2 separate regions of the Homo sapiens genome follow, and region 2 is linked to region 1. Evidence: fine-mapped expression QTL. A gene starts in region 1. The other region holds a variant in brackets. All regions are shown on one strand. Distances are between the middles of the regions. Region 1 holds the start of KAT2B (lysine acetyltransferase 2B). Region 2 overlaps KAT2B (lysine acetyltransferase 2B).

Evidence for each region. PIP is the estimated chance that this variant, and not a neighbour inherited with it, causes the effect.
Region 2: its variant is fine-mapped to the expression of KAT2B in tibial nerve (GTEx, PIP above 0.99).

What each region holds. Positions count from the first base shown.
Region 1 is chr3:20,032,323-20,047,290 of GRCh38, reverse strand. It overlaps KAT2B (lysine acetyltransferase 2B), which reads right to left and starts at 6,845. Exons shown (of 18, transcript NM_003884.5): 1 at 6,511-6,845. The coding sequence starts at 6,813. RefSeq lists enhancers at 3,573-3,732, 3,813-3,982, 5,344-5,533, 6,250-7,220 and silencers at 6,384-6,443, 6,644-6,773, 6,944-7,583.
Region 2 is chr3:20,059,195-20,075,975 of GRCh38, reverse strand. It overlaps KAT2B (lysine acetyltransferase 2B), which reads right to left. Exons shown (of 18, transcript NM_003884.5): 2 at 3,517-3,643. Among named protein-coding and RNA genes, the nearest start is that of KAT2B, 27 kb to the right of the region's middle. The variant T/G (reference allele first, on the strand shown) is at 8,824.

The DNA.
Region 1 (14,968 bases):
AGACCAGCCTGTTAAACATGGCGAAACCCAGGTTGGCGAAACATCTCTATAAAAAATACAAAAATTAGCCGGCCATGGTGACGTGCGCCTGGCCAAGTAGCCTCCCAGCTACTTGGGAGACTAGGGTGGGAGGACCACCTGAGCCCACTGCACTCCAGCCTGGGAAGCAGAGTAAGACCCTGCCTCAAAAAAGCCTCAGAAAAAAAAAAGGGGGGGGCAAAACAAAAACCATTGATGTTTTTTCTTTCTGTGCTGCAAAGGTATTTGTCTAAAACAGGCTTTCTCAACTTCTGTTAATTCTATTAATATTTTGGACCAGATAATCATTCGTTGGGGGGAGTTGTCCTGTGCATTGTGGGATGTATAGCAACATTACTGGCCTCCACTCACTAGTTGCCAGTTGCATTCCCTCCTCCCAACTGCAAAGATTGAAAATGTCTCCAGACATTGTCAAATGTCCCTTGGGAGGTTAAATAGCTCCTGGGTGAGAGCCACTGCTCTAAATGCTGACAAATGAAAAAGACAATTTGCTCTCTGGGGGAGTGACTGACAAATACAAAGGTGTTGGGGGCGCTCTCCAACTATAAGGCTTGTTCTAGTGCCCCACCCACCAGCCCTTAGCCAACAGAGGATGCTTTTTGTTTTGTGGTGGCACATCTACCTCTGCTCTCTGTATATTCTACAACCAGTGCTACTTCTAGATTATAAATCATTATTATTATTATTTTGAGACAAGGTCTAGTGCAGTGGCATGATCTCAGCTCACTGTAACTTCTGCCTCCCAGGCTCAAGCCATCCTCCCACCTCAACCTCCTGAGTAGCTAGGGACTACAGGCACGCACCATCATGCCCGGCTAATTTTCGTAATTTTTGTAGAGACAGGGTTTCACCATGTTGCCCAGGCTGGTCTCGAACTCGTGAGCTCAAGTGATCCGTCTGCCTTGGCCACCCAAACTGCTGGGATTACAGGCACAAGCCACCATGCCCTGGGCCTATTTTTTCAATTAAGACTAATTTTATAGTCCTGTACCCATGAAACTCCTTAAATGTGGCACCTTGCCGAGAACCCAAGCAACTGGGTTCTCCATAAATGCTTTGTGGCCACTGACTCTGATATACGAGTAAAGCACCAGGCAATTCCGTTTATTTAGCCAGCATTAACCTAGCATCTTTATGTTCTAGGAATTCTGGGGACACTTTTTTCTTTTAACTTTAAGGTTGAAGTCATGATCACCACTTTATACATGCAGTCATTGAGGCTCAGAGAAAAACTAAGTGACCTGTGCCTAAGATCACACAAGTGGCAGAGCTGGGGTGGATTCAGGACTGAGTCTGTTGCTCTTACTTGACTTTCAAGTTAACAGCGTCTCCCCTACCTTCTGAGGGCTTGCCATGGGCAAGACACCATGCTGGATGTCTAATACAGCCCATTTTAAATCCTCACTGTTATGCCATGAGGCGGGTAACATCATTCCTTTACAGACAGGGAAATAAAGGCTTAAATGAAATCCTTATCCAAGGTTGCAGAGCTGGATATCCCAAAATTTGAATTCAGATTAGCCTGAACTCTGAAGCCCATGTTCTTAGCCACTATACCCTATTGCCTCCTCTTACGTATTAATATAAATGGCCTGCTCCTTTAGGAAGGGTTAGTCAATGGGTTTTGTTTCTCTTTTGAAGTTAGTAGATGATATACTTTAATTCAAGAAGATTTGGATTTGGCCTACTCATACATTCACTTGGGGTTTCTTTTATAACATTAAAAACCCAATCCCAAGCAGGCATGGTGGTGCAGGCCTATAGTCCCAGCTACCCAAGAGGCTGAGGTGGGAGGATCACCTGAGTCAAGGAGTTCAAGGCTGCAGTGAGCTATGATCGTGCCAGTGTACCCCATCCTGGGCAACAGAGCAAGACCCTGTCTCTAAAATAAATAAATAAATAAATAAATAAATAAATAAATAAATAAATAAATAGGCCAGGTGCAGTGGCTCACACCTGTAATCCCAGCGCTTTGGGAGGTGGAGGCAGGCAGATTGCTTGAGCCCAGGAGTTGGAAACCAGCCTGGCAAACATGGCGAAACCCCATCTCTACCAAAAAAAATACAAAAATTAGCCAAGTATGGTGGTGCATGCCTGTGGTCTCAGCTACTCAGGAGGCTAAGGTGGAAGGATCACTTGAGCCTGGGAGGTACAGGTTGCAGTGAGCCAAGATCACGCCACTGTACTCCTGCCAGGGTGACAGAGCGAGACCCTGTCTCAAAAAAATAAATAAATAAATAACCCAATCCTATCAATATCTGTGGGACACCTAGAACTGTCCTATATGACAAATCTCTACTTAGTTGTCAAGAAGTGATTAAGTTAAAATTCCACAACTGCTAACATCACAGCTAATCATTTCTTCCATTTTCTCTTCTCTGGTTCATTCGCTTAGTCAATAACCGCATGGCTAAGAATCTATTCAAAGATTCTAAATGCACATCAAATAATCATACAAATCATAAAAATCATAATATAAGCACCAGGAAGAGTACAGATGAATTTGGATAATTTCTAATGGGAAGGCTGCTCAGGGGGGTAAAGGAAAGGCAAGGAATCTGAGTTCTATAGGAAGGGTTGGGAGTTAATTTTAAAATGTGGAAAGAAGAGCTTCCAGTCCCAGTGAACAGCATGTGCAAAGCCCCTCACCCCACCTCACCCCCGACTAGGTGAAAGGAAACCATGTGCCTGAACCCTCGATAAGGAGCCACAGATAGCAGTAGCCAGGCCATGCAGGGCCTTGTGGACCACAATAAAGAGAAATTAAAGGGCCTGAAGTGTGGGTATAACATGGTCAGATCTACTTTATTTTATTTATTTATTTATTTTTTTTTTTAGGGAGAATCTTGCTCTGTCACCCAGGCTGGAGTACAGCGGTGCAATCACAGCTCACTGCAACCTCTGCCACCACGCCTGGTTAATTTTTTATTTTTTGTAGAGACGAAGTCTCACTATATTGCCCAGGATGGCCTCAAATTCCTGGACTCAAGTGATCCTCCCGCCTCGGCCTCCCAAAGTGCTGGGATTACAGGTCTGAGCCACTGCGCCTGGCCTAGATCTACATTTTTAATGAACACAGAACCAAAATGACTCTGAAGCAACCTTTACCAGGACACAGTTCAAAGATCTGGATCCTGCGAAACAAGTTTGTTTGTTTCTTTTCTTTTTTCTTTTTTTTTTTTCTTTTTCTATTCTCTGGGGTGTGGCACGTCACCCTGGCTGACTTAGCTCCCTTCTTTTTTGGTTTCGTTTGTGAAGTTTAAAGGCCAGATTTATATCAGGCCTGGGACCTGTTTTTCTTTCAAAAGCCCCCCAGTGAACTACCTTATCTCTTTCTAGATCCCTCCTCATTCTCTAATCTCTCTAATCTAACTTGCCAAGGGGCCTGTGGCAAAGGTAGAGCAATCTGTCCTTTTGGGCTTGCTCATATTAAGTGCAGAAACAAGCTGAGAGAGAACCACAGATTTTGCTCTCTTACACTCCCTCGTACCCAATCAAGTCCAGTTAAATTTTTTTTTTTTTTAAAAAAAGCAAATCTGAGATAATGTCACTCTCCAGGTTAAGATTCCTGCACTCCTCAGTGCCCTCTTGGCCACGCACCCCAGCCGGTGGCCCTAGGCAACAAAGGTCTGGCTCAGTTGGCCCACCTCCAAGCTTCCACAACTGCTTTCAGTTTCTCCACTACAAGAAGCTTCACCCCACCCCACTCTGCCCTGCCAAGAGTTCTTAGCAGCCACTGACACTTCCTCCAGGAAGCCAATCCCACCCTACCAGTGCCCCAGTCTATGAACTGTCCTGCTCTGGGTCCGCAACTACTCCAAGAAAGTAGTTTTTCTGAACTTCTCTGTAATTTTGGTTCACTGCCCTCATCCCTAGGCCCCCAACACATGCATACACACACATGCACTTGTGCACACACACAATAAGTAACTCCTGAAGGACAAATTCTGTGTGTCATAGGCCCAGCACCTAGCCCAATGCCTGACACCCAGTTGGTAACCCTCTAAATATTTACTGAATGAATGGATACATAAAAATGAACACTTTCAGCCAGGCATGGTGGCCCATGCCTATAATCTCAGCACTTTGGGAAGCAAGGCGGGCAAATTGCTTGGGCTCAGGAGTTTGAGAACAGCCTGGGCAACAAGGTGAAACCCTATCTCTACAAAGAATACAAATAATAATAATAATAGTGTACTGGCGCATGCCTGTAGTCCCAGCTACTCAAGAGGCTGATGTAGGAGGATCACCTGAGCCCAGGGAGGTTGAGTCTGCAGTGAGCTACGATCATGCCACTGCACTCCAGCCTACGTGGCAGAGTGAGACCCTGTCTCAAAAAAAAAAAAAGACGTTAAAATAAATTTTCTCTTTCTCTTGTTGGGTCATGAAAGTGACCAGGAAACACTCAAATCCCACTTGGAAGTGGTGCTACATCTCACCCATGGAAATTTGAAAAGATCAAAAATATCAATGCAGGCCACATATGCTCATGGTTTTAGACAAAACCAAAACTTCAGGAAAGTTTTCAGATATTAAAGCTACAGCAGGCAGCAGGAAGTCTTTAAGAGGTGCTGGTGATGAGAACCCAATAAATAAATTTTAAAATAAAGCCAGAACAGAAACACTGAGTTGAGACAGTTCCTGCATGAGCCCACTTTGGCTGCGAAACGCCAAGGCCACCAAGTAATTGACCTTGCTCTTTTTTTTCATAGGTTTTTGTGGAACAGGTGGTGTTTGATTACATAAGTTCTTTAATGGTGATTTGTGAGATTTTGGTGTAGTCATCACCCAAGCAGTATGCCCTGTACCCATGACCTTGTTCTTAATTCTGTACATAGCTCGCCCTTCTGCCTACTACAGTCGGTGTCCTGTTCTCATTCGTCTAATGCCCTTCATGATCAACTCCTGGGCTTGCACCTTTCTTAGAAGCACACTCCCCACTTCATCTTTTTTGCATTCCTTCTTCAGAAATAACCACATAGCATTATTATTTGTTTCTGTCTTTTCTGCTAAAATCAAAGGGGACAAATAATATATTGTCCAGGTCTGAATTGGAATGTGGTCTGTGGACTAGCATAGCATCACTTGGGAGTTTGTCAGAAATGCAAACTCTCAGCTTCCACCTCAGACCACCTGATTCATAATCAGCATTTTAACCAGCTTCCCCAGGAGATTCCCATGCACATTAAAGTTTGAGGAGCACTGGGCTAGATCCTACATTCACTCAACAAATATTTATTGAACCAGTGTAGGATACAGAGGTGCTTAACATAAACCTGAGCATATGGTGTGGAAAAAGAGCAAGCATAGACATTCCATTGTGACTGAGAAGCTCCTGCAAGTACCAAGAAGAGTATAACCTAGATGTTCTAGTAGAATAAATTATAGTTATGTCAAAATTCAGAAGTGGTCACTGCAGCTTGGTTGTGACAATCGGGAATCTGGAATCTGGGAACTTGACCCTCTTTACAGCAGGCAGGAAGAATACAGGGAGGTGTGAGTGTGTGTGAGTGTGTCTCTTCCCTGCCTCAGCCACAGGCCGCAGGAGCTGACAAGGCCAAGTCCCCGCCCCCCTCAGCTGTCACCCTGTCAAAACAAAGCCGCTGCTGACAGCGCAGGGCCAGCCTGCCCCGCGGCCTCGGGCAATCCTCCCACCTCGGGAACACAGCCTCCACATCTGGATCTGCAGCTGGAGGTGACAGGGTGCCTAAACTGGCATGGAGAGTGGGTAGCAAGAAATGGGTGTCCTCAAACTGAGCAGTAGCGCCCGCCGCGCTGGGCTGTCACTTTGCCAAATCCTGTTTACACCTCGAGCAGCTGGGACAGCGTTTTAACTAAACAAGTAATAATACAATAATGACAGGGCTGTCACCGCGCGCGGCAGTGCCTCCGCCCCCAGCCGAGGGCGCCAGGCACCACAAGACCCTCGCCTCGGACTCTGCCCACCTTCCCACCCCGCGCTTTCCTCCCCTTCGCTTTCCCAAAGCGCCAGGAGTCCGGGAGTCTTCTCCACCCCCACTCCTTGCACCCAGTTCCTCCCAGTGGGACACAGGAAGGGATCGATTGCAGAAGGGACCACTCAGTCCCCCAAAAGATTTTTCCTTGCCCCTGGGTCACCCGCCACATGGAGAGCACCGCTCCACTCCCGGGAAAGTGACTCCAGCGAGCTCCTACAGAGCAACAAAACCCCAAGGTAGCCCGGGAGCTCGGATGCCGAAGCTACTCCTTTCAAGCGGAAGGAATGAAGGGCTCTCCGTCTTAGTGATCCCCCTTCTTCAAACCCAGCAGGACTCTTATCCAAGAAGAAGCTAATTGGGCGCGGGCGACAAGAGCACTTCCGCGGTGCAGCGGCCCCAGGCGGGAGGCGAGAGGCAGGAGGCGGGAGGCGGAGGTGGAAGCGGGAGGGGGAGGGGGGTCCCGCGGGCTGGGCCCCTAGCACCCATCCGCGGTCCGAGAGCGGCGAGCGCGTACCTTGCAGGCGGAGTACACTCCGAGTTTCTCCAGTTTCTTGGCCCGCGGAGCGGAGCGTAGTTGCGCTTTCTTCACGGCGATTCGGGCCGAGCCACCGCCTCCCGGTCCTTCGGCCGTGCCCGCTGCAGCCACTGCCGTCGCCGGACCGCAGGCGCCCGAGCCCCCGGCGGCAGCGGCGCAGGGGGAGCCCTGCGGGGGCGCGGGCGGAAGCGCCGCAGGCTGCGGGGGCAGCGCCCCGGGCCCGGCCCCTGCCCCGGCTCCTGCCCCGCAGCCGCCCGGCCCGGCCCCGCCAGCCTCGGACATGCCGCCCCGGAGCACGGCAGGAGGCGCCGAGTGTCAGGCGCCGCCGCCGCCGCCAGGGTCTCCCTCTCGGGCTCTGGTAGTCGGGAGAGCGAGACCCTCCCCCCACGCCCTCCCGCCCCCTTCGCCCACCCCCCTCCCCGCCCCCGCCCTCCCCCTAGCGCGCCGCTCGCCCGGCTCGCTCTGGCCGGGCCCCGCGCGCTGATGGTGGTGGCGGCGGCGGCAGCGGCGGCAGCTGCTCCCCCAGGAGGGAGGGGACTAGCGGCTCCGCTGCCGCTGCCGCCGCCGCCACAGCACACGCCCTCCCTTGGTTCTCCTGCCCGGGACTCTGCTCCGCGCCCTGGCTGCGGACATGTTCCTCGGGACTGCGGACTAGGTGTGCGTGCCGGCGGCTGCCAGCCTCACGGTGTCTGCCAGCGCTGGGAGGCCCCCCACGGCCTCTTTTCCGCTGCCCGCGGGGTTTGCACCCCCCACCCCAGTGCTTCGACACCTACCGCTCGCCCGCCAGGGGGCGAGGCCAATCCCTGGGTGTGGGTGAGGGTGGGGACGAGGGTGGGGGTAGGGGCCTGGAGCCCAGGCACCTGCTGGCCACCTCCCCCCTCCGCGGCCCCCCATCCGACCCCCGCACGCCTGCACCAGTGGGAGGGGGCAGCCTCTCAATCATTTGTCCTTTCACTCTCTTCCACCCTGTCTCTGACAGAGAGACAACTTCCTCCACCCTAGCGGGAGCCAGAGGAAAAAAAATATATTTTTGAAAAGTACCCGTCCATGCTAATCTTTTTCTTTGTTGCTAATTCACCAAAATAAAGACGTGATGTTCTCCCTTTCTCTTTTTAAATACTTTCTGTCAAACTATTTTTTAATATAATTAACACTTTCTTCCCATAGCAATTTCTGGGTCAAATCTGCCGGAGGAGGGGAAAAAAACTTACTATTCTCTGTAATTTTTGTTTGAAAGTGCTGGTTGCTAAAAGAAAGATTGTCTAAAAAGCATTGTCAAAAACTATGCAGTGGAAAAAGTTTGAATACAAAAAGTTTGTTAACAGGATTCGTTTCTGGGTGGTGGTTCTATAACGTTACGTAGTTTTCAAAATTGTGCCACCGCGTGCGTATTAACCAGGAAAAAGATATAAGCATAATTCAAAAGAATAAATATCGATTTTGGCCTCAAACTTTAAAAAGAAAAAAAAAACCCTCAACTCAGTGTTTCCAACTCTTGTTGAAAACTGTTGTTTTCACTGTTGATGACTGTGGAGCATACAAGTCAGTGCTGCGTTTGAAAGTGGTGTACCGTTGATCGCCTTCTTAAGCAGGTTTTAAAAGCCCAGGGCTTTTTCTCAGGACCCTTCAGAAGTGCCCTACTTTTTGTTATATGCAATGTGGGTCATAATGTGCTTATTATCAGATTTTATGCATGCTGTATAGCTCTCAGGCCAGACGCTTTAAGGGGTGTGCTTTTCGTGGGAAACATTCCCCTTCTTCTTTTTCCAGATTCTCTGTGTTATTTTGACTTGTAATGCAGGTTAATATATAAACATTGGGAGGTGGGGGAGTTTGTAGATCTAAACAGTGATATTAGCTTAGACAGGGCAAAAGGCAATATTCTCTCCCAACTTGAGTCCAGTCTTGAGGGGATGAAATGGCAGATTCTTATCAGGTTCCATTCAGGACAATTAATTTCAGTGCTTCCTTTCTTAGCTTGACGTGCTTCACGTTACCAGTGTTACTCTCTCCTGGCTCTGCTGAGATGTTTCGCAGATTTTTGCCATTCTCCGCAAAGCAGGGTGAGAGTCTTAAAGGCTGTGCTTCTCTGATCAACCTCTAACATGGATTTAACAGATACTAATAAGAGCTTGGGTTCCACCTTGCAGGCATTTGTCAAACTGATGGAATGATCCACTTGAGATCTGTACATTTCACTGGATATAAATGTTGCCTCAAAAATTTTTAAAAAAAGAAAAATCACAAGCATTGAACTCTAATGGTGCTCTTTGTACTTTGAGATACATCAAAAATAAGATGTATGGATGCCTCCATGCATGGGTAAAGGGTGGATGAACAGAGATATGATAAAGCAAATAGGGGTCCATATAATAGAGTCTAGGTAATGGGCACAGTGCGCAATTCTTTCAACTTTTCTGTATGTTTGAAAATTTTCACAGTGACAATTGGGGGAGGGAACCCAGATTTAACATTAAGTCACCTATCAACTCCTCCTCCCAAGCGTCCCTCAGAATTCAGGAGGCAGACAATTTCCAGGATGTTTTGAAGCAGAAGTAGCCAATCTCCTTTCAATCCACTCTGAAAACCATCACTGTCTGAGTGGCGAATGGCTTGTGCCATTAACTGAACATTATTTTTCATTATTTCCCTGCTCAGAGTACCCAGATGACATACTGCCTTAGGCTGAAGGCCCGTGGTTTCAAGACCTATTCAAAGTGTGTTATGAGCACCAGGCAAGGAAATTTCAAGGGCAAAGGATTCAGGAGGCTTATTGCTTTTCCATAATTAGGTTGTTGTAAGCATTCAGTGTGCTCTTTCTGTGCACACAGTACTTTTAAGAAATAACTACCAAGAAAATAAAAGGCAATGTTTTCATTTACAAAGTATTTACCACTTACTGAGGTAAAGAAGCTACATTCAGAAAATAAAAGCTTGGAGAGTGGGCATGGTAGAGGCAGGCTGACCACTGGAGGTTACTTGTGGTATATTCACACAACAGAATATTTTATACCTGTTATACACAATGACCTTTATAAAAATATAATAACATAGATCTCTAAGAAACACTGTTGAATAAATCTCAGTGCAGCATAATACCATTTATGTTAAAAACAAACTCACATTGACATATAAGCACAATTTTGTATATGTTCAATAAATGCATGGGAAATTCAAAAGTAAGGGAAAGATTTAAAAAGGTACATAGCAATAAAATAAAATTTCAACTTCAGAACACGAGATTATATAACAAGAAGTTGATAAGGTCCACCCCTTCCCATTCTCCCTGGTGCTGCAGTATACTTCAGCCAAACTCAGGAAATGCTTTCCTACCTCAGGGCCTTTGCATTTGCTGTACTATGTGGATACCCTCCACCAAACAGCATGGCTAACCCTATTCATCTGGTATTCCTTGCTCAGAGATGCCTTCCTAAAAAAGGCAAGTTTTGTGGCCATCTATTGTTATATCATCTAGCAGAGTTTCTTGCCATATTCCTTCCTACCAAGGCTATACAGCTTCTGTAATGTACCAGTAACCCTGAATCCCACAGATGGATTGAAATTATCCCCAGTAAAGGCACAGACTGTAAGGGTACAGATCAAGTGGTCAAAGTGCAGGTTTGGCCCAGTACATGGACCATGACTGACATTCTTCCCAGACACCTGCTTTTAGAAACAGCAGTTGGATATGAGTGTAAAATAAAGAGACATGTCAATGCCTAAGTGGGGCTCCTTGGGCCAACCTTCCTCTGAGGGAAGTGGCTATAATTACTGAACATTTATTTTAAATTAAATAAAATAAATCCTCCTAGGAAAAAAGTTTTGAAAATAATAAATGAATCCTAGGATGAGGAAACATAAAATCCCCTTCCCTAGTTTTCAAGCATTTATGAATTAAATCATTTCCAGTGTGAATCTTAACCATGCCCCAAATACCATTAGTGCTTTCTTTTTTTTTTGAGACAGAGCCTCGCTTTGTCGCCTGGGCTGGAGTGCAGTGGCGCTATCTCGGCTCACTGCAACCTCCATCTCCTGGGTTCAAGCGATTCTCCTGCCTCAGCCTCCCGAGTAGCTGGAATTACAGGCGCCCACCATCACGCCCAGCTGATTTTTTATATTTTTGGTAGAGATAGGATTTCACCATGTTGGCCAGGCTGGTCTCGAACCCCTGACCTCGTGATTCACCCGCCTTGGCCTCCTAAAGTGTTGAGATTACAGGCGTGAGCCACCATGCCCAGCGCCATTAGTGCTATTTTATTCAACCTTTTTTTTTTTCTTTTTGAGGCAGGGTCTAGCTCTGTCACCCAAGCTGGAGTGCTGTGTTATGATCAAGGCACACTGCAGCCTCGACCTCCTGGGCTCAAGTAATCCTCCTACCTGAGCCTCCCAAGTAGCTGGGACTACAGACATGTGCCACCACACTCGGCTACTTTTTTTTTTTTTTCCAATTTTTATTAGAAACAAGGTCTCAATATGTTGCCCAGACTGGTCTCTCACTCCTGGCCTCAGCAGTCTTCCTGCCTGGGCCTCCCAAAGTGTTGGGATTACAGCCATGAGCCACTGCACTACCCAACCTTATTTATTTTAATTCTTAGTTATCCTTAGTAACAATCTTCTATTATTAATATGAATAGACCTAAGTATATTTGGCTAAGCCTTGCCCTTGTAAAGACAGAGGGGTTTTTTTATATTGCTTTCTGTTTTAAATATTAACGCATACTTATTTCACCAGTTTACTTACCATTTACAATGAAAGTACAATGTAAGTAAAAGAAATAAAGTCGGCTTTCTTCTGAATTCAGGCTAAATGACTTTCTACTTTTCCAAAGCAGCACATGAGAATTTATTGTTTCAAGCACCTTGAAAATTATATAAGGAAATCAAATTTCCAAAGAACCGACTTTGGTGTGACCTAGATTTTCTGGAATGATATGAACATCATAAATTGTATTCCTGTTAGTGCCAGATAATTGTTTAAAATAAACCTGAGGGATTCTAATTCCCTAAATATATAAAAACATTCATATATATAGTTTCACAAATTAGGGAAAAAATCTTTCTCAAAACAGGTTTTCTAATTTAGGGTCCCCTTATAAGGGAAGCCTTTAGTATAAAAGGCTTCAATTCCTTAATCCTAATTCCTGATTGGCTGAGCACACTGCCACTGACCTTTTAAGCCTAAAATCAAAGCACAGAGTAGTGTGTTCCAATGTATAAAATAGGTGCTATACATCAGCAAATGCTTTGGCTAAGAAAAACAAAGAAAAATGACGATTGTTCAGTATAGTAACATTATATCCCTTCAAAACCACAATAGTTTTATATTGTTATAAAATATTTCAAACATATTGAAAAATAAAGTAATATATTTGTATATTCACCAACCAGATTTTTAATGTTTTCATTTTCCATAAACATATATAATAAATATGTAATTAAAGACTGCTCTTTTATATCTCTCTTTATCTCATTTCCCAATTGCCTGCCCACCCCAGAAGTAAATATGTACGGAAGTGTATCTTTGGTCATGTTTTTTGATGTTTGCAAAATAAACCCATGGAGAAGGATCAAGTGAACTTTCACCGTTAAAGGCTAGATGAAGATATTTGAGGCTTTGTGGGACGCGGTCTCTCACAACTACTCAACTCTGCCAGGGTCTCATTTCTAGGAAAGGACATGTGTTTATCCTACATAGTTAAAAATCAAGCAAGATGTTAGTATAGAAGTACTCACCAAATGCTCCCATCTTTTTTGTTATTGTCTATAATTTTTTATCTACATTTTTATGACACAAACTGACTTCTGATTTTACCACAGTATATAAGTTTGCTAGGGCTTCCATAAGAAAGTACCACAGATTGGGTGGCTTAAACACAGAAATTTATTTCTTCAGAATTCTGGAGGCTAAAAACCCAAGATCAAGGTGACAGCAAGATTGGTTTCTTCTGAGGCCTCTCTCCTTGGCTTGTGGATGGTGGTTTTTCTCCGGTGTTTTCATGTGATCTTCTCTCTGTGTGTTTCTGTGTTCTCATCTCTTCTTCTAGGGATGCTAGTCATATGGGATTAGGGCCCACCTTAATGACCTCATTTAACCTTAACTACCTCTTTAAAGACAATCTCAAAATACAGTCACATTCTGAAGTACTAGGGATTAGAATTTCAATATATGAATTTTGGAGGGACACAATTCAGCCCACAACATGCAATCAATAGATCATTAACATTTCCAATGTATTTTAATGATTCCCATGCTCAATATACTCCTTCACTCTACATTGGCTTTTTTTCTTGCTAAACACATCCTTCAGCAGTTCTTTCCGGAAGGATCTAAACCACTACTTAGCTAGTCTTCTACTCAGGGAAGGCCTTAATCTGTAGTAGTTGAAACACCTGCCAACAAATGTGCATTATATTTGGCTAGGTTGAGTTTAATATTTTTATTAGCTTGTAAAGAAAAATGACATCTTCTACTCCAAATAGCATTTGACATCAATTTTTTAAAATAAGCTTTTATGCATTTTTTCACACTGAAAGAAAAACGAAAGAAACAAAAGGAGACAAAGCCCAATATATATGTGTCTTCAGCTGTTTTTGTCTTTCTGTTCTGGAATATTTATTCTATTTTTTCAGCAAGTTTTTTTTTTTTTTTAAGATAATATGAGCCTGGGCAATATAGCAAGACCTGGTCTCTACAAAAAATAAAAAAGCTACCTGAGAATGGGGGCACATACCTGTAGTCCCAGCTACTTGGGGGGTTAGGCAGGAAGATGGCTTGAACCCAAAAGTTCCAGGTTGCAGTGAGCTATCCTCCAGTGTGGGAGGATAGAGTGAAACCTTATTTCTAAAATAAGCAAATAAATAAAATAAAAGACAATATGCTTTAGTTAAGTACACTAATTTTAATTGTTCAGCTCAGTGAATTTTTATATATGGATACACTTGATTCCTCACCAGCCAGATCAATATATATAGAACATCCCCAGTGCTAGAAAGGCTTCCTGGCTGGGCACAGTGGCCCACACCTGTAATCCAGCACTTTGAGGGGCCAAGGCGGGCAGATCACTTGAGGTCAGGAGTTCGAGACCAGCATGGCCAAAATGGCAAAACCCGTCTCTACTGAAAACACAAAAAATTAGCTAGGCGTGGTGGCATGCGCCTATAATCCCAGCTACCTGGGAGGCTGAGGCAGGAGAATCGCTTGAAACCGGGAGGCATATGTTGCAGTGAGCCCATATCACGCCACTGCACTCCGGCATGGGCAACAGAGCAAGACTCCGTCTCAAAAAAAAAAAAAAAGACTTCCTTTTGCCCCCTTCTAATCAACATCCTAAGACAATTGCTATTCTGGCTTATATAGTCTTGCCTATTCATAAAATTCATATAAAAATAACACAGCATGGACTCTTGTTGTTGGGCTCCTTTTTATTTTATTTATTTATTTATTTATTTAGATGGAGTTTTGCTCTTGTTGCCCAGGCTGGAGTACAGCGGCGCAATCTCAGCTCTCTGCTACCTCCGCCTCCCAGGTTCAAGCAATTCTCCTGTCTCAGCCTCCCAAGTAGCTGGGATTATAGGTGCCTGCCACCATGCCTGGCTAATTTTTTTTTTTTTTTTTTTTTTTTTTTTGTATTTTTAGTAGACACAGGGTTTCACCATGTTGGCCAGGCTGGTCTTGAACTCCTCACCTCAGGTGATCCACCCACCTCGGCCTCCCAAAGTGCTGGGATTACAGGCGTGAGCCACCACTCCTGGCCTCCTTTTTAAAGATATTATGTTTATAAAGTCCATCCTGCTGTTCCATGTAGCCATGTCACTTTTTTTGTTTGTTTGCTTGTTTGTTAGATTTTGAAACAGCATCTCACACTGTTGCTTAGGTTGGATCGCCAAGATTGGAGTGCAGTAGTGCAATCATGGCTTACTCCACCCTTAATATCCAGGGCTCAACCAGTCCTCCCACCTCAACCTCCTAAGTAGCTGGGGCTACCTGGAGGCGCTACTACACCTGACTAATTTTTATTTTTTGTAGAGACAAGGTTTCACCATGTTGACCAGGCTAGTCTTGAACTCTTGGGCTCAAGTGATCTGCCTACATCGGCCTCCCAAAGTGCTCACCTTATAGGCATGAGCCACCATGCCTGGCCTCATGTCACTTTTTTAAATTGCCATATAGTATTCCACTGTATGACTCTACCACAATTTACCCATTTTCTTGTTGATAGACATTTCTAGTTTTTTACTATTATGAATAAAGTTGTTATGACTGTTCTTTTTTTTTTCTTATGAGACGGAGTTTCACTCTTGTTGCCCAGGCTGGAGTACAGTGGTGCAATCTCGGCTCACTGCAACCTCCGCCACCTGGGTTCAAGCAATTCTCCTGTCTCAGCCTCCCAATAGCTGGGATTATAGGCACCTGACACCACGTCTGGCTAATTTTTAG
Region 2 (16,781 bases), 28 kb before region 1:
ACAAGAAAGGTAAGGGAGGGAAAGTGTAGAGATAAAGCCGTATGAAAAAAATTTTTTTTTTTTTTTTTGAGATGGGAGTCTCGCTCTGTCGCCCAGGCTGCAGTGGTGAGATCTCGGCTCACTGCAGCCTCTGCTCCCAGGTTTAATCGATTCTCATGCCTCAGTCTCCCAAGTAGCTGGGATTACAGGCTCAAGCTTCCAGGTTGCTGAACATGTGGAGGTGCCTGGGGGGTCGTGCACCTGGAGAGGGCAAGGAAGCTTCACTCCCCTTCCCCAAACCTTGCAATGTGCATCCCTTCATCTGGCTGTCTGTGTATCCTTTATATTAAACCAGTAAACTGAAGTGTTTCCTTGAGTTCTGTAAGCCATCCTAGCAAATTATTGAAACCAAGGAAGGGGTATGATGGGAACCCTGATTTATAGCCGGTAGGTCAGAAGCAAAGGTCATAACCTGGGACTTGCAATTGGCATCTGAAGTGGGAGCACTATTGTGGGACTGTGCCCTTAACCTGTGGGATGTGATGCTATCTCCAAGTAGGTCATGTCAGAACCGAAATGAATTATGGGACCTCCAGCTAGTGTTCAGAGAGTGGGAGAATTGCTTGGTGAGTGAAGAAAAAAAAAACCCACACATCTGGTCACAGAAGTGTTCTGTGTTGAGTAAAATAGAAAAAAGTTTTATACTATTATATTTTCTTTTTTCTTTTTTTTTGAGACAGAGTCTCGCAATATCGCTCAGGCTGGAGTGCAGTGGTGCAATCTCGGCTCACTACAACCTCCGCCTCCTAGGTTCAAGCAATTCTCCTGCCTCAGCCTCCCGAGTAGCTGGGATTATAGGTGCTTGCCACCATGCCCAGCTAATTTTTGTATTTTTAGTAGAGACGGGGTTTCACCATGTTGGCCAGGCTGGTCTCGAACTCCTGACCTTGTGATCTGCCAGCCTCGGCCTCCCAAAGTGCTGGAATTACAGGCGTGAGCCACCACGCCCGGCCTTATGGTATTATATTTTCTAAAGTAATAAAATGGGATCATACTCATGAAACATCAATGCTGTTTCTGAGTCAGCATCCTGTATTTGGGAAAGGACCAACTTCTTAGTTCCCTTGGGGTAAACTTCAGAGTTAAACACATAACAGGCACAAGCTCCTCCACAGGGTATTTAAATCCTGAACCAATACTCACAGGGACAGAGGCAGTTGGAGTTGAATCCTAAATGATTCAGTGGCAGCAGACTGAACAGAAGCTCTGTGAACTTCTGCAGCTGAGATCCCCAAACAAGATCAAAACCTGTTTTCCCATTGTTTTCAGCTTCTAGAAGCTACTAGTACCCTTCTTATATGCATTGTTTTCTTATTTAAGCTAGACAGAGTATATATCTGCTGTGTGAAGTAAAAGAACCCTGATAGTGTTATAGTACCACTACTACGAACAACATCAGCCAATAATCATGTATTTACATGCCAGGTACTATTCTAAGATTTTTTCTTATCTCATTTAATCCTCACAATGATCCTGCAAGGTAAATACTACTATGTATTAACCCATTTCAGAGTTGAAAAAACTGAGGTCCAGGCAGATTAAGTAATGTGCTCATACTCACAGCTACTGGTTATAGAGTTAGGATTTGAACTCAGGCTGATAGATCCAATAATTTAGTCCTAAATTATAAAACCTCCTATCAAGCTGCTTTATTACCTGATTTCTTCACAATCATCTCCTACATTGGAATATTTAGGTTGTTTCATGCTTTTTACTATCGTAAGTAAGGCCAGAAAACACTGTCACCGTCCTTTTAGTTTAATTTGAGGGCACATCTTAATTTACACACAGATTAAATTTCTGGCATGGATTTGCCAGGTCAAAGGATATGTGATTTTTTTTTTCATTCTTCATTCTTGATTATGTATTGCAGAATGAGGGCATTTGTTTTCAAAGCTTGGTAAGAAATAAAAAAGGAAACAAAGTTGGCTTTTTTTGTGAAGCACTGTCTCTGCCTTCAGGCATTCATGTGTGTTTACGTGCTTAGAATGGAGACAATCTGCTCGGCTAAGAAAGAAAGAAGATCCTGTTTTAAATGTTAATTGATGTAGGATAATAGGATTTCCCAATCAATAACAAATACACTTCAAGCCTAGGGCTTAAGGATTTCTTGAGTCCAGACATTTATTACGTCACATTTCCTGAGGCAATCCTAAACTCCATTCACTCCATTCAGAGTTAGTGATTGTTTTGTTTCGTTCTGTTTTATTTATTTATTTTTTTAAAAAGGTAAATTATAATCAAGGACAGTTCTCTAACTTTTGAAATTTTTGCTCTGTATTGAGTGCTTCAAAACTCAGAGCTCACATTGTTTGAGATACCAATTAAGTCAACAAAATGATGAAATTATTAGTGTGTTGCTTTTGTGAGATCAGGACTATTTCTATTTTCAGAAGGTTATTCCAATGTGATGACTTCTTGGGAAGATCACATTATCTACTTGTATGCTCTGTAAATATTGAAATACTCTCTGAGTACAAAATAAAATTTCAGACGACCTAACACCATGCTAACCTTGGAGGCGACACCATTTCTTGTAAGCAGGAAGCTCTAGAGAAATGATGGCATAAGAAGTCACCCACTTATAATGGTCAGGTGGAAAGAGCAACTACCTTAGCAAGAACGTTCTGCCCAGTGAGTGCTATGTCCTTGCAGTCACGGACAGCAAACTGGCCTTGTTGACATTTTGGGGGAGACTGTATAACTGAAGGCAGGAAAGTAAGAATAGTCTAAGATTCTTCGTGGACTGAAATTTTAGTATCTAGGAAAAACTAATTCCTCAACTTTTATCTACTCAAACAACACATGATTTTTTTAAATATTTTAATCATAAAACTAGTATTAGGACAAAGAACAACATACTAGCACAGGCCTTTTGAGTGACTGCAGCAGAGCCTACTGAGCCATCACTGACAATGATTATTTTGCAGGGTCAGATAAGAAAGTTGAAAGGGAAACCACCAGTAAACATTCAATAAACACAATAAAGAGCAGCCCAGTGAAGAAAGAGCTATCAGATACACAAAACTAAGGAATATGAAGATAAAATGAAGCACCCCAGAAAGTTCAGGGCAACAGAAATAATAAAAATGATCATTATTATCATTAAACCAGTTGGTTGAGGTTTCAACCCTGAGGTCAAAGACCCTCAGGCCCCAACCCCCAAAATGAATCAGGACATGTTACACATTATTCATGCTAACTAGCTCGATTGTCATGTTTCATCTTATTTGGCAATCCCCCAGTCCAACTCAGCTCTTGAAAGGAAGAAGGGACAAAGTCACTGCACACAGTGCAGCATTTGTCTCTCACGAGAAGCCCTTCCCAGCAAACTCGTGAGACTAGAGAGGCTCTTGTTGTTGCTCTCATACAGAGGTACACAGCATTCAAATTTGGTGAACCCACAGAATTCAGTAAGTTAAGAGTCTCACGCTACAATGAACTCGTTATACTTTCCTTGAAGATTTAGGAACTCACCTAGGGCATGGCTACAACTCCGACAGGATTCTGTTAGACTGACAATTATTTGCTGCAGGTCGGCTCTGGGGGGAGTGGGTGAGGGGTTAGGGTTTTTCCAGCCATTACATTTACAAGACTCCTCGGCCTAAAAATGGAATAAAGAAAGAGACAAAATTATTTAACAGGCAGCCGTGGACTGATGGTTTTACATGAGAACAATGTACACTAATTATATGACAGCTATCCCCTCACCCCTGACTTTGTCGTCTGCCATATACACAAGAGAAAAACAGAAAACCCAAAGGTGGTATTTGATTTGAGTGCTTTGCTTTTTGTTTTCTTTTGTTGTCTGCTGGCTGGAATCTGCATGCTACAGCTCACGCAGCTGACCCACACACTTTGCTACCATTGCCCCCAGTGGGTGTCCATGAAGTGGTGAGTTCCAAGAAAGTCCATCTCAAAAGATGGACATTCCAAATCCACAAGCCAGACTCCTGATGTCCCACAAACACAGCTAAGGTCTAGGCTAAGGTTGAGCCTTGCAGGTTCCAAGGCACCAGCTGCATCTCTGCCCCATGGACCAGAAGGGAAACCCATAGAACCGAAGAAGTTAGCAATCTTAGGAAGATGAGACGGGGCACACCCAGCTGAAGGCACACTTGCAGGCTCCTCCAAGACTTCTGTGAGCTCCCAGCTTTAGAAATGAAGAGGGCTTCATCATGTAGTCCTGGGTTTCTACTTACACGTACATTTCCCAGGTTTCCTGTACTAGAACACCATTATTTTAGCAACACTTGATAGAAAGCTTCCTTAACTTTGTCCACATACTCTTCACACTTCCCTATGTTTGTAGCCAAGAGTGAACATGATGTAGCCTTCTTTAAGTGATCTGACCTATGAAATGGAAGGCAAGCATGAAAAATTATCAATTATTCTACCAGGTACCACACTGTATGCTTCAGCAGGTCTCAACGTATGAAAGGTTCATACCTTTCATTTGTGCTTGCAATGAATGACCTCAGCCACTTATAAAAATAATTCTTCTGCCCCTTCTCTACTATTCTTAGCACTCTGTCACTCTCACCATTTATTTACTGCTTCAAGTCAGCTGTGGCTGGGAAACCAGAAGATACATTGTTAGAATAACATGTAACACAGATGAAGTCACTCTAGGGTAGAGCCATCTACATATACTATCCAGTACGGTAGCCTCTGGCCACATGTGGCTATTGAGCACTAGAAATCCAGCTAGTTCAAATCAAAGTGCACTGTAGTTGCAAAATATACAGATTTAGAAGACTAGCGCAAAATATAAAATACATCATTAACAATGTTTATATTACATATTGAAATTATATGTTTAAATGTATTATTTTGGATATATGGGTTAAAGAAAAGATATTATTAATATTGACTTATTTTTACTTTTGTAATACAGTTATCCAAACTTTTTGGTTTTTTTTTTTTTATATACAGAGTCTCTCTGTGTTGCCCAGGCTGGAGTGCAGTGGCAAGATCTTGTCTCACTGCATCCTCCACCTCTCAGGTTCAAGTGATTCTTGTGCCTCAGCCTCCTGAGTAGCTGGGGTTACTGGCATGCACCACCACACCCAGCTAATTTTTGTATTTTTAGTGGAGGCAGGGTTTCACCATGTTGCCAAGGCTGGTCTCGACCTCCTGACCTCAGGTGATCCGCCCACCTTGGCCTCCCAAAGTGCAGGTATTACAGGCGTGCGCCACCGTGACCAGCAGCATAAGTCTAATTTGAAGAAAATTGTCAGAGTGGCTGCTGCTTTGACCTCATACATAAAATTCTCCAGGACAGAGATCATTTCTGAAGTGTGTATATATGTGTAACAGTATAAGAAAAGAGAGGCCGGGCACGGTGGGTCACGCCTGTAATCCCAGCACTTTGGGAGGCCGAGGTGGGCGGATCACGAGGTCAGGAGATCGAGATTACCCTGGCTAACATGGTGAAACCCCATCTCTACTAAAAATACAAAAAATTAGCCGGGCGTGGTGGCAGGCGCCTGTAGTCCCAGCTACTCAGGAGGCTGAGGCAGGAGAATGGCGTGAACCTGGGAGGCGAAGCTTGCAGTGAGCCGAGATTGCACAACTGCACTCCAGCCTGGGTACAGAGCGAGACTCCATCTCAAAAAAAAAAAAAAGAAAGAAAGAAAGAAAAGAGAATAAACGATTGGCAAGGTAAGAAGGGTCATGGTAGAAGAAAAATCTGCCTTTGAATGAGTCCTTTTCAGTGGGCCATGTGAATCTGGAATACCTAACCTGACTGCTTTTCCCATTTTGTATTAATGAGGATGGAGAAGGCAGGGCCAGGAGAAGCACCTACATCAGCATCCCCATAGCTACATCCCCCAGTGAGTAGCTCAAGTGACCGTCTTTTGTCTAGGCATCAGGAAGGCCCAACTCTTACCCCCAGAGTTCTCTGTTGCCAGGCTGAACCTGGCCTTGAAATTCTCTGTAATGAACCATCCACCTCTTCAGAGGTTGCAAAGATCTCAGAGGCCATGTTCTTGAAGGAAATTGTCATGAGAATTTACAATGAAGACAGTGAATAGGAGAATATGGCAAACCGAAATATACAACTTTGGCCTAAGGGTTATTAAAATGCAGATACAAGAAAAGCTTGGCCGGGCGCAGTGGCTCACACCTGTTATTCCAGCACTTTGGGAGGCCAAGGCGGGTGGATCATGAGGTCAGGAGTTCAAGACCATCCTGGCCAGTCTTGAATGGTGAAACCCCGTCTCTACTAAAAATACAAAAATTAGCCGGGTATGGTGGCAGCCACCTGTAATCCCAACTACTCAGGAGGCTGAGGCAGGAGAATCACTTGAACCCGGGCGGCAGAGGTTGCCGTGAGCTGAGATTGCGCCATTGCACTCCAGCCTGAGCGACAGAGTGAGACTCTGTCTCAAAAAAAAAAAAAAGAAAAGAAAAGAAAAGAAAAAGAAAAGCTCTCTGCCCTCCCCTATATCCCCAGAAGCAGGACATAAATTCTTAAAGGTATCCCCACTTCCCTCTCTAACAAGAAGGACAGAAGTTGATCTTGGAGACAACTCTTGACCTTTATCAGCCCAGATAGGGTACCAGGGGAATCTACATAACAAACCTTGCTAAAACCAGCCCTGATCTACCATTGGTTTCCCCACATACTTGCCTTCCCACAATCTGCTGTCCCTAGCAGCTCAAGGTCCTTTTCCTTTGTCTTCTCACTTCTCTAAAAATTTACTAGTCTTTGCTGAGATAGCCTATAAGCCCAAGTTCTAACTACCTCCTTGAGTTACTCTTCACTGGGTGCTCTCATGTTCATACGCAATGAATATGTCAATAAACTTGTTTTTGTTTTTCTCTTGTTAATGTATTCTGTTAGTCTGACTGACAGGGCCCCAACCAATGCACCTAAAATGGTAAAGGGAAAACAGCTTTCTTCCCCTACAAAAGTATCACTAAGATTTTGTAGAGTCAGAGGAAACCACCCTTATTGTGGGCCAACCTCTCTTAGTTGCCGCATAGCTACTTCCAGGAACTCCCTAAGCCTCCAGCTTTTCTGAATAGTTGGTCTGATCCACAGCCCTTTCCCAAAGGACCTTAAGTTAGAGAAAGAAAAATGACTAAATGGCCCCAACAAAGCAATTAAATATGGCAGGCCAAACCTAGAAGGAAAAAACAGTAATAACCAAAAACACCTTGAGTTTGGAGAACAGCATTTCAAGCCAAGCAGTTATGCACACTGACTCATTCTTTCAACAATATTTATTGAGGCCTACTACATGCCAGGTACTATTGACTATGAAACAAAGATTCTGCTCTCCTGGAGATTACATTAGGGGTAGCCGGGGATGGGGAAAACAAGATTAACACAAATGAGTAAATTATAGAATATACTGGAGAATGTGATGGTGCTATGGAAAGAAAGAAAAAAGGATGAGTACAGGGAACTTAGCAGAGGGTGGGATAAAAGGTATAATTTTAACTAGGACTTTTTGAGATGACCTTAGAGCAAAGACTTGAAGAAAGGTGGGAGTTGGTCATTAGGTATCTAGTATAAGGGAAACACAGCTAGCGCAAAGGCAAGAGAGTGCCTGGCTTGCTCAACAGAAAGTAAAGGCCAATGTGGCTACAGCGCAGTGGGTAAAGACGTGTTGAAATTAAACCAGACAGGGTCAAGCACAGTGGCTCACACCTATAATTGCAGCACTTTGGGAGGCCGAGGCAGGCGGATCACCTGAGGTCAGGAGTTCGAGACCAACCTGGCCAACATGGTGAAATCCCATCTCTACTAAAAATACAAAAATTAGTCGGCATGGTGGTGCACACCTGTAATCCCAGCTACTCAGATGGCTGAGGCAGCAGAATCGCTTGAACCCGGGAGGCAGAGGTTGCAGTGAGCCAAGATTGCGCCACTGCAGTCCAGCCTGGGTGACAGAGTAAGACCTTGCCTCAAAAACAAAAAAAAAAGAAAGAAAGAAAAAAGAAATGAAATTAAGCCAGACGGGACAGGCACAGGTAATCCTAGAACTTTGGGAGGTTAAGGCAGGCAGATCACCTGAGGTCAGGAGTTCGAGACCAGCCTGGCCAACATGGCAAGACCCCATCTCTATTAAAAATACAAAAATTAGCCAGGTGTGGTGGTGGGCACCTGTAATCCCAGCTACTTGGGAGGCTGAGGCAGGAGAATCGCTTGAACCTGGGAGGCAGAGGTTGCAGTGAGCCAAGATCGCACCACTGCACTCCAGCCTGGGTGACAGAGTGAGACCCTGTCTCAGAAGTTTAAAAAAATATAAAAAAATAAATAAAGAAAGAATTCAAGGATCTAAAACTTTTCTTCCTATGGGCTTGCTTATAAAACTCTGCCTTGCCCTGAGATGCATGCTAACAAGTAACAAGCTTTAAATTCTTGGAGAAGACAACACAGAGTTTTAGAGATATAGATCTTAACTTCATTGTTGCAACAGACTAAGTTCAGTCAGCCCAGAAAAAAAGTTTATTTATGCCCCTTCTTGTCTTAACATGACAGAGAATAATGGCTGTGTTCACTGGGGGCTCATAAATGGGTGAGTCACAAATCTCATGGCAGGGAGATCTGTAATAATAAGGTCTTATATTTCCCCTACTCAATAAAAAAAAAAAGTTACATCTTGAATATTAACCGCACGTGTTGAAACCACTTGTGATAGAGTGCTTAATGAATTCTACCATACAATAAACACTGATGCTTAAAAATGTAACTGAATAAAGATCTTTTCTTTCAAAACTGGCTGATTTTACTTCCTCCACTGAGTCTTGGGATCCCAGTACAAAGTA[T/G]ATTTTTATTTCTTTTGTTCATAATGACTGAGACTTCCCAAACAAATTAAAATTCCCTGAAAACTAAGAGGAATGAAGAGAGGGAGACAACATGGGGTGAAACACTGAGAAGCATAAAAGTTTTGTCAGCCCCGCAGCACTCCAACTGTGCTGTCCAAGATGTGGCAGCCAGCCACAAGCGAATACGGAGTCTTTAAAAATTGGCAATAAAAATTGAGATGTGTTATGAGTGTTTGAAAATACACCCTGAATTTCAAAGACTTCGTATTAAAAAATGTTAAAATATCACATTAAGAATTATTTTATATTGATTACATATTATAATAATATTTTGAAATATTCAGTTAAAGTAAAAATTAGAATTAATAAAATTAAATTTTTGGCTTTTCTGATTTTTTTTTTTTAATGCGGTGCAGTGGGTTAAATAGTGTGTGCCCTAAAGTTCATGTCCCAGCCAGGTGCGGTGGCTCATGCCTGTAATCCCAGCACTTTGGGATGCCGAGGTGGGAGGATCACACATGAGGTCAGGAGTTCGAGACCAGCCTGGCCAACATGGTGAAACCCTGTCTCTAATAAAAACACAAAAATTAGCCAGGCATAGTGACACATGCCTGTAATCCCAGCTACTCGGGAAGCTGAGGCAGGAGAATTGCTTGAACCCAGGAGGCCAAAGTTGCAGTAAGCTGAGATGGCACCACTGCACTCCAGCTAGGTGACAGAGTGAGACTGTCTCAAATAATAATAATAAATAAAGTTCATGTTCCCCTGGAACCTCAAAATGGGGCCATATTTGGAAATAGGTTCATTGCAGATGTGATCAGTTAAGGACATGCAGATGAAATTATCCTAAGCCCTAAAACCAATGACTGGCGTTTTCCTAAGAGAAAGAAGAAGGAGATTTGGAGACAGACACAGACAAACAGTAAAGAAGGCCAAGTGAAGATAGAAGCAGAGGCTGGATCTCACTATGAGACAGACCAGGGTCTCACTATAAGCCAAAGAATGCCAAGGATTGCCAAGCACCACCAGATGCTAGGAAGAGGCAAGGAAAGATTCTTCCCTACAGCCTTCAAAAGGAGTGTGGCCCAGATGACATCTTGATCTCAGACTTCTAGCCTCCAAAACTGTGAATAAAAAAAAAACTGTATTTGTTGTTTTAAGCCACATATTTTGTGGTTATTTGTTATGACAGGCCTAAGAAACTAATACACAGGACTACTAGAAAATGTTAAATAATACATGCGGCCTCCATATTACTATTGGATATTGGTGCACTAGACTATAAAGGGACTCCACCCCCAAGCCCCAGGTCTTCACTATGGACCCTAACAGTTTAAGCATAGAATAGTCTCAGCATCCCTAAGTGGTCCTAACTCTTTAAAGTTATACCCTATTGATATATATGAGAATCCCTTGAGTTTTCCTTACTTGTTTCAGTATTTTTTGCAGGATATGAAAATTGGTTCTTGCATGTGTGCATGCTCCATGGGACACCTAACAACCTAAGTGTACAAAATTTTTAATATATATGGGACTCGTTACTTGATTTGCTAAAAAGGACATACTGTGTCCTTTAAAAAACAGTCAATGCTCTTATCCTTGACTGCCAGCAAAGCATTTTCTGCCAAGTTTTCTGAGCTGCTGCTACCATGCCCTCCACTTTGGCCTTCATCTCCCCATTCCAATGTTCAGGCCTGGCCACTGTTCTTCGAGATAAGAGGTCTCCTTTCAAAACACCTTTCCCATGTCTCTCCTTAATTAGGCATGACAGCTGCTGTCTAAGGGAACTCCCAAGGGAGTTGGCCTTGCAGCTTTAATGAAGTACCAGCTGAAGGACAACCTTTTAGGGAGTGCACTGCCAAGCCAATTACTGTAGCAGCTAGCAACCTGGGCACAGGGAGGGGAAAGCTACCCAGATGACTTCATCCCCCCAAGAGCACATCTCTGCAGACATTGCAGAACCAAGAAAGAAGAAAAGGCCACTGCACTACTTTCAACAGGACTGGGATAATGTTTTCATCCCAACAGGATCCAGGGTTAGAGGTCAATAGTATGCAACCGATGTTGTTATAGTATGCAGAAACCAGGATGGATGATGAGAAAGAAGATAAACTGGATAAACAAGTAGTCACAACCCAGATTACAGACAGACAAGGGGTGGAGAGCTCACAGTTCACGCAGTGTTAATGAGTGAGATGGGTGTGAAGATATTTGAGTGGCATCCAGAGGAACAGGAGAAAGACAGCCAGCTGTCTAGCAAAATTCTGTCATGCTTAAAATATTGGAAAGTCGCATTTGTTGGAAAACTTAAATTAGTGTCAAGGATGTCCCACAGCAAGAACACGTTGATGGAAAATTTATTCAGTATAACTGATCCAACATTTATTTAGCACCCAAAATTAAAAATGTACATGTACTCTTATCTCACTCGATGTAAGTAAAGTATGAATTATTGCCATTATTAAAAGAGAAAGCTGAGGCTCTAGGTGATAAGAGACTTGCCTGGGGTTACTCATTCTACCCTGCAGATGCACAAAATGTGTCCAGGCAGGTAACTGGCACTGTGGTTGTGAGAGAGGAAGGACTCACTCTTATTCACTACCTCTCTGCTCCATGCTGGACAAAGTCATAATGTTTAAATGTCAAGGATCAAAACCGTAACTTCTCACCCAATAAGATCTCTCTAACCAAATATAGATAGGAGGAGTAAATTCTGGTGTTCTATCGCACAGCAGAGTGACTATAGTTAACAATAATATATTGCATATTACAAAATAGCTACAAGAGAGGATTTTGAATGTTCTCATCACAAAGAAATGACAAGTGATTGAGGTGATGAACATGCTAATTACACTGATTTGGCCATTACACAATGTATACATGTTTCAAAACACCACACTATGCCCCCATCAATATGTATAATTATTAGGTGTCAATTAAACACAAAATAAGTTCTTTTTTCAAAAGGAGCTGACAATAACAAATTATCAGGCATGTGAAAAATTGGAATCCTCATACAGTGTTTGTGGGATGTAACAAGGTACAACCACCTTGGAAAACAGTTTGCTAGCTTCTTATATACTAATGGAACAGAATAGATAGCCCAGAAATAAACCCTCACAGATAATGGTCAAATGATTTTGACAAGTGTGCCAAGACCATTCAATAGAGAAAGGACAGTCTTTTCAATAAATGGTGCTGGAAAAACTAGGTATCTGTGTGCACAAGAATGAAGCTGGACCCTTAGCTAATAACACACACACAAATGAACTCAAAATAGATGAAAGACTTCAACATAAAATTGTGAATCTCGGCCGGGCGTGGTGGCTCACGTCTGTAATCCCAGCACTTGGGGAGGCCGAAGCAGTTGGATCACGAGGTCAGGAGTTCAAGACCAGCCTGGCCAACATGGTGAAACCCTGTCACTACTAAAAATACAAAAATTAACCGGGCATGGTGGCTCACGTCTGTAATCCCAGCTACTTGGGAGGCTGAGGCAGGAGAATTGCTTGAACCTGGGAGGCAGAGGTTGCAGTGAGCTGAGATTGTGCCACTACATTCCAGCCTGGGCAACAGAGCAACCATCTCAAAAAAAAAAAAAAAAAAAAAAAAAAAAAAGAGGCCTACTCAGAAGTTGCTGTGAGGTGAGATCGCACCACTGCACTCCAGCCTGAGCAACAGGGCGAGACCCCATCTCAAAAGAAAAAAAAAGAAAGAAAGAAAGAATCTCTTAAAAGAAAATACAGAAAAAATCTTCATGATACTAGATCAGGCAATGGTGTCTTGGATATAATACCAAAAGCACAGGCGGCCAGGTGTGGTGGCTCAGGTGTATAATCCCAGCACGCTGGGAAGGTCAGGAGTTCAAGACCAGCCTGAGCAACAAACAAGACTCCATCTCTACAAAAATTTTAAAAATTAGCTGGACATAGTGGTGCACGCCTGCAGTCACAGCCACTCAGAAGGCTGAGGCAGGCAGATCCCTTGAGCCTAGGAATTCGAGGCAGCAATGGGCCATGACTGTGCCACTGTACTCCAGCCTGGGAAACAGAGCAAGATACTGTCTAAAAATAAATAACAAAAACACAGGCAACAAAAGAAAAACAGATAAACTGGAATTAGGAAAAACTTTAAATTTCTGTGCACCAAAAGACATACACAACAGAGTGAAAAGGCAACCCAGAGAATGGGAGAAAATATTTGCAAACCATATATTTGATAACAGGTTAATATCCAAAATATATAAAGAATGCCTACAACTCAACAACAACAACAACAACGAAATTTTACAATGGGCAAAGGACTTGAGCAGACACTTCTCCAAAGAAAATATACAAATGGTCAATAAACACATGAAAAGATGCTCAACATCATTAATAATTATGAAAATGGGCCAGGCACGGTGACTCACGCCTGTAATCCCAATACTTTGAGAGGCTGAGGCAGGTGGATCACCTGAGCTCAGGAATGCAAGACCAGTCTGGCAAACAAGGCGAAACCCCGTCTCTACTAAAAACACAAAAATTGGCTGGGCGTGGCGGCGCATGCCTGTAATCCCAGCTACTCGGGAAGCTGAGGCAAGAGAATCGCTTGAACCCAGGAGGCAGACGTTACAATGAGCCGAGATCATGCCACTGCACTCCAGCCTGGGTGACAGAGCAAAACTACCTCTAATATATATATATATAAAATAAAATATATATAATTTCTATATATTATATATTATATATAATAATATATAATATATAATATATAATTTATTATGTTATATATAATATATTATAAATTATATATAAAATATATTATATATTATATTTTATACATAATAAATATTTTATATATATTATATTTTATATATTATATATTATATTTTATATATTATATATTATATATCATATTTTATATATTATATATTTTATATATATTTTTATATATAATATATTTTATATAAAATATATATATTTTATATATTATATATTATATATATTATATATTATATATTTTTATATATTATATATTTTATATATATATGTTTTATATAATATATATTATATGTTTTATATATAATATATATTATATGTTTTATATATAATATATATTATATGTTTTATATATAATATATATTATGTTTTATATATAATATATATTATATGTTTTATATATTATATGTTTTATATATAATATATATTATGTTTTATATATAATATATATTATGTTTTATATATGATATATAATACATATTTTATATATAATATATAATACATATTTTATACAAATATATTATATATTTTATGTATATTATATATATTTTATGTATATTATATATTATATACTTTATGTATAATATATAATATATAATATATTTTATGTATTATAAATTATATATTTTTATGTATAATATATTTTTTCATATATATTATTTTTTCATATATACGTATGAAAATACAAATTAAAACTACAATGAAATACCACCTCACTCCCATTAGCATGGCTACTACAAAAGAAACAGAAAACAGTGTTGGAGAGGATGTAGAGAAACTGGAAACCTTGAATATTCCTGCTGAAGACGTAAAATGGTATGGCTGCTATGGAAAACAGTATGACAGTTCCTCAAAATATTAGAAATGGAATTACTATATGACGCAGCAATTCCACTTCTGGGTATATACCCAAAAGAATTGAAAGTAGGAAGTCAAAGAAATATTTGGACACCCATGTCCTAGTATCATTATTAAGCACAACAGCAAGAAGGTCCAAGCAACCCCAGCATCCCTTAAGAGATGAATAAATAAGTAAAACGTAGTATATACATTCAAAGGGCTATTATATAACCTTAAAAAGAAAGGCAACTCTGACACATGCCACAACCTGAATGAAACTTGAGAATGTTATGCTAAGTAAAATAGTCACAAAATGACAAATACTGTATGATTCCACTTAGATAAGGTGTCTATGGTAGCCAAATTCATAGAGATAGGAATGGTGGTTGCCGAGGGGTTGGAGGAAGGAAGAGGGAGTTACTGTTTAATGAACACAGAGTTTCAGTTTTGCAAGCTGAAAAGTGTTCTGTGGATGAATGGTGGTGATGATTGCACAATAATGTGAATTTCTTAATACCAATGAACTAGACACTTAAAAATAGTTCAGATGGTAAACTTTAGATCATCTATATTTTACCACAGTTTTGTTGTTGTTGTTGTTGTTGTTGTTTTGAGACAGGGTCTCACTCTGTTGCCCAGGAGTGCAGTGGCATGATCATGGTTTATTACAACCTCAACCTCCTGGGTTCAAGCAATCCTCCAACTTCAGCCTCCTGAGTAGACAGGACCACAGGCATGTACCTCTACACCTGGATAATTTATTTTATTTTATTTTTTATTTTTATTTTTTGGTAGAGACAGGGTCTTACTATGTTACTCACGCTGGTCTCAAACTCCTGGACTCAAGGGATCTTCCCACCTCAGCCTCCCAAAGTACTAAGATTACAGGCCATGAGCTACCATGCCCAGCATTACCACAGTTTGTTGTTTGTGTGTTTGTTTGTTTGTTTTTAGACAGAGTTTCTCTCTTGTTGCCCAGGCTGGAGTGCAATGGCGTGATCTCAGCTCACTGCAACCTCCGCCTCCTGGGTTTAAGAGATTCTCCTGCCTCAGCCTCCCCAGTAGCTGGGATTACAGGCATGCACCACCATGCCCAGCTAATTTTGTATTTTTAGTAGAGACAGGGTTTCTCCCTGTTGGTCAGGTTGGTCTCAGACTCCCGACCTCAGGTGATCCGCCCGCCTTGGCCTCCCAAAGTACTGGGACTACAGGCGTGAGCCACCATGCCCAGCCCACAGTTTTTTAAGAAACAACAATTTTTTCAAAAAGTTAAACATAAATTTACCACATGACCCAGCAAATCCACTAAGTATCTACCCAAGAGAAACAGAAATATATCCATACTAAGACTTGCATGCAGATGCCTCAGCAACATTATTCATGATAGCCAAAAGGCAGAAATAATCTAAATGCCCATCAACTAGTTAACGCATAAGCAAAATGTGTTCTAGTCATATAACGGATTATTACTTGCAATGAAAGATAAAGAAGTGCTGACATATGCTACAACATGGATGTATCTCAAACACATTACACTCGGCATAAGAAGCCCATCATAAAAGGCCACATACTGTATACTTCCATTTACATGACCATCCAGAAAAGGCAAATTTATAGAGACAGAAAGATTAGTGGTCATCTGGGGTGGGGGGTAGGAACAGGGTTAACTGTAAATGGACCCAAGGATCCTTTGGAGGTGATGGAAATCTTCTAAAAGGTAGATTGTGGTGATGATTGTACAACTTGTCAATTTCTTAAAAATCATTGAATTGTACACTTAAAACTAGAGAATATTATGGTACCTAAATCATAACTCAGTAAAGTTTTTTTTGTTTTTGTTTTTGTTTTGAGATGGAGTCTCGCTCAGTCGCCCAGGCTGGAATGCAGTGGTACGATCTCGGCTCACCGCAAGCTCCACCTCCCAGGTTCACGCCATTCTCCTGCCTCAGCCTCCCAAGTAGCTGGGACTACAGGCGCCCGCCACCACACCTGGCTAATTTTTTGTATTTGTAGTAGAGGTGGGGTTTCACCGTGGTCTCGATCTCCTGACCTCGTGATCCACCTGCCTCGGCCTCCCAAAGTGCTGGGATTACAAGCGTGAGGCACCACGCCTGGCCTTTTTTTTTTTTTTTTTTTTTTTGAGACAGAGTCTCTGTCGCCCAGGCTGGAGTACAGTGGCATGATGATCTCAGCTCACTGCAACCTCCGCCTCCCAGGTTCAAGCGATTCTCCTGCCTCAGCCTCCCGAGTAGCTGGGACTACTAGACGCATGCCACCACGCCTGGCTAATTTTTGTATTTTTAGTAGAGACGGGGTTTCACCATGTTGGCCAGGCTGGTCTCGAACTCCCGACCTCAA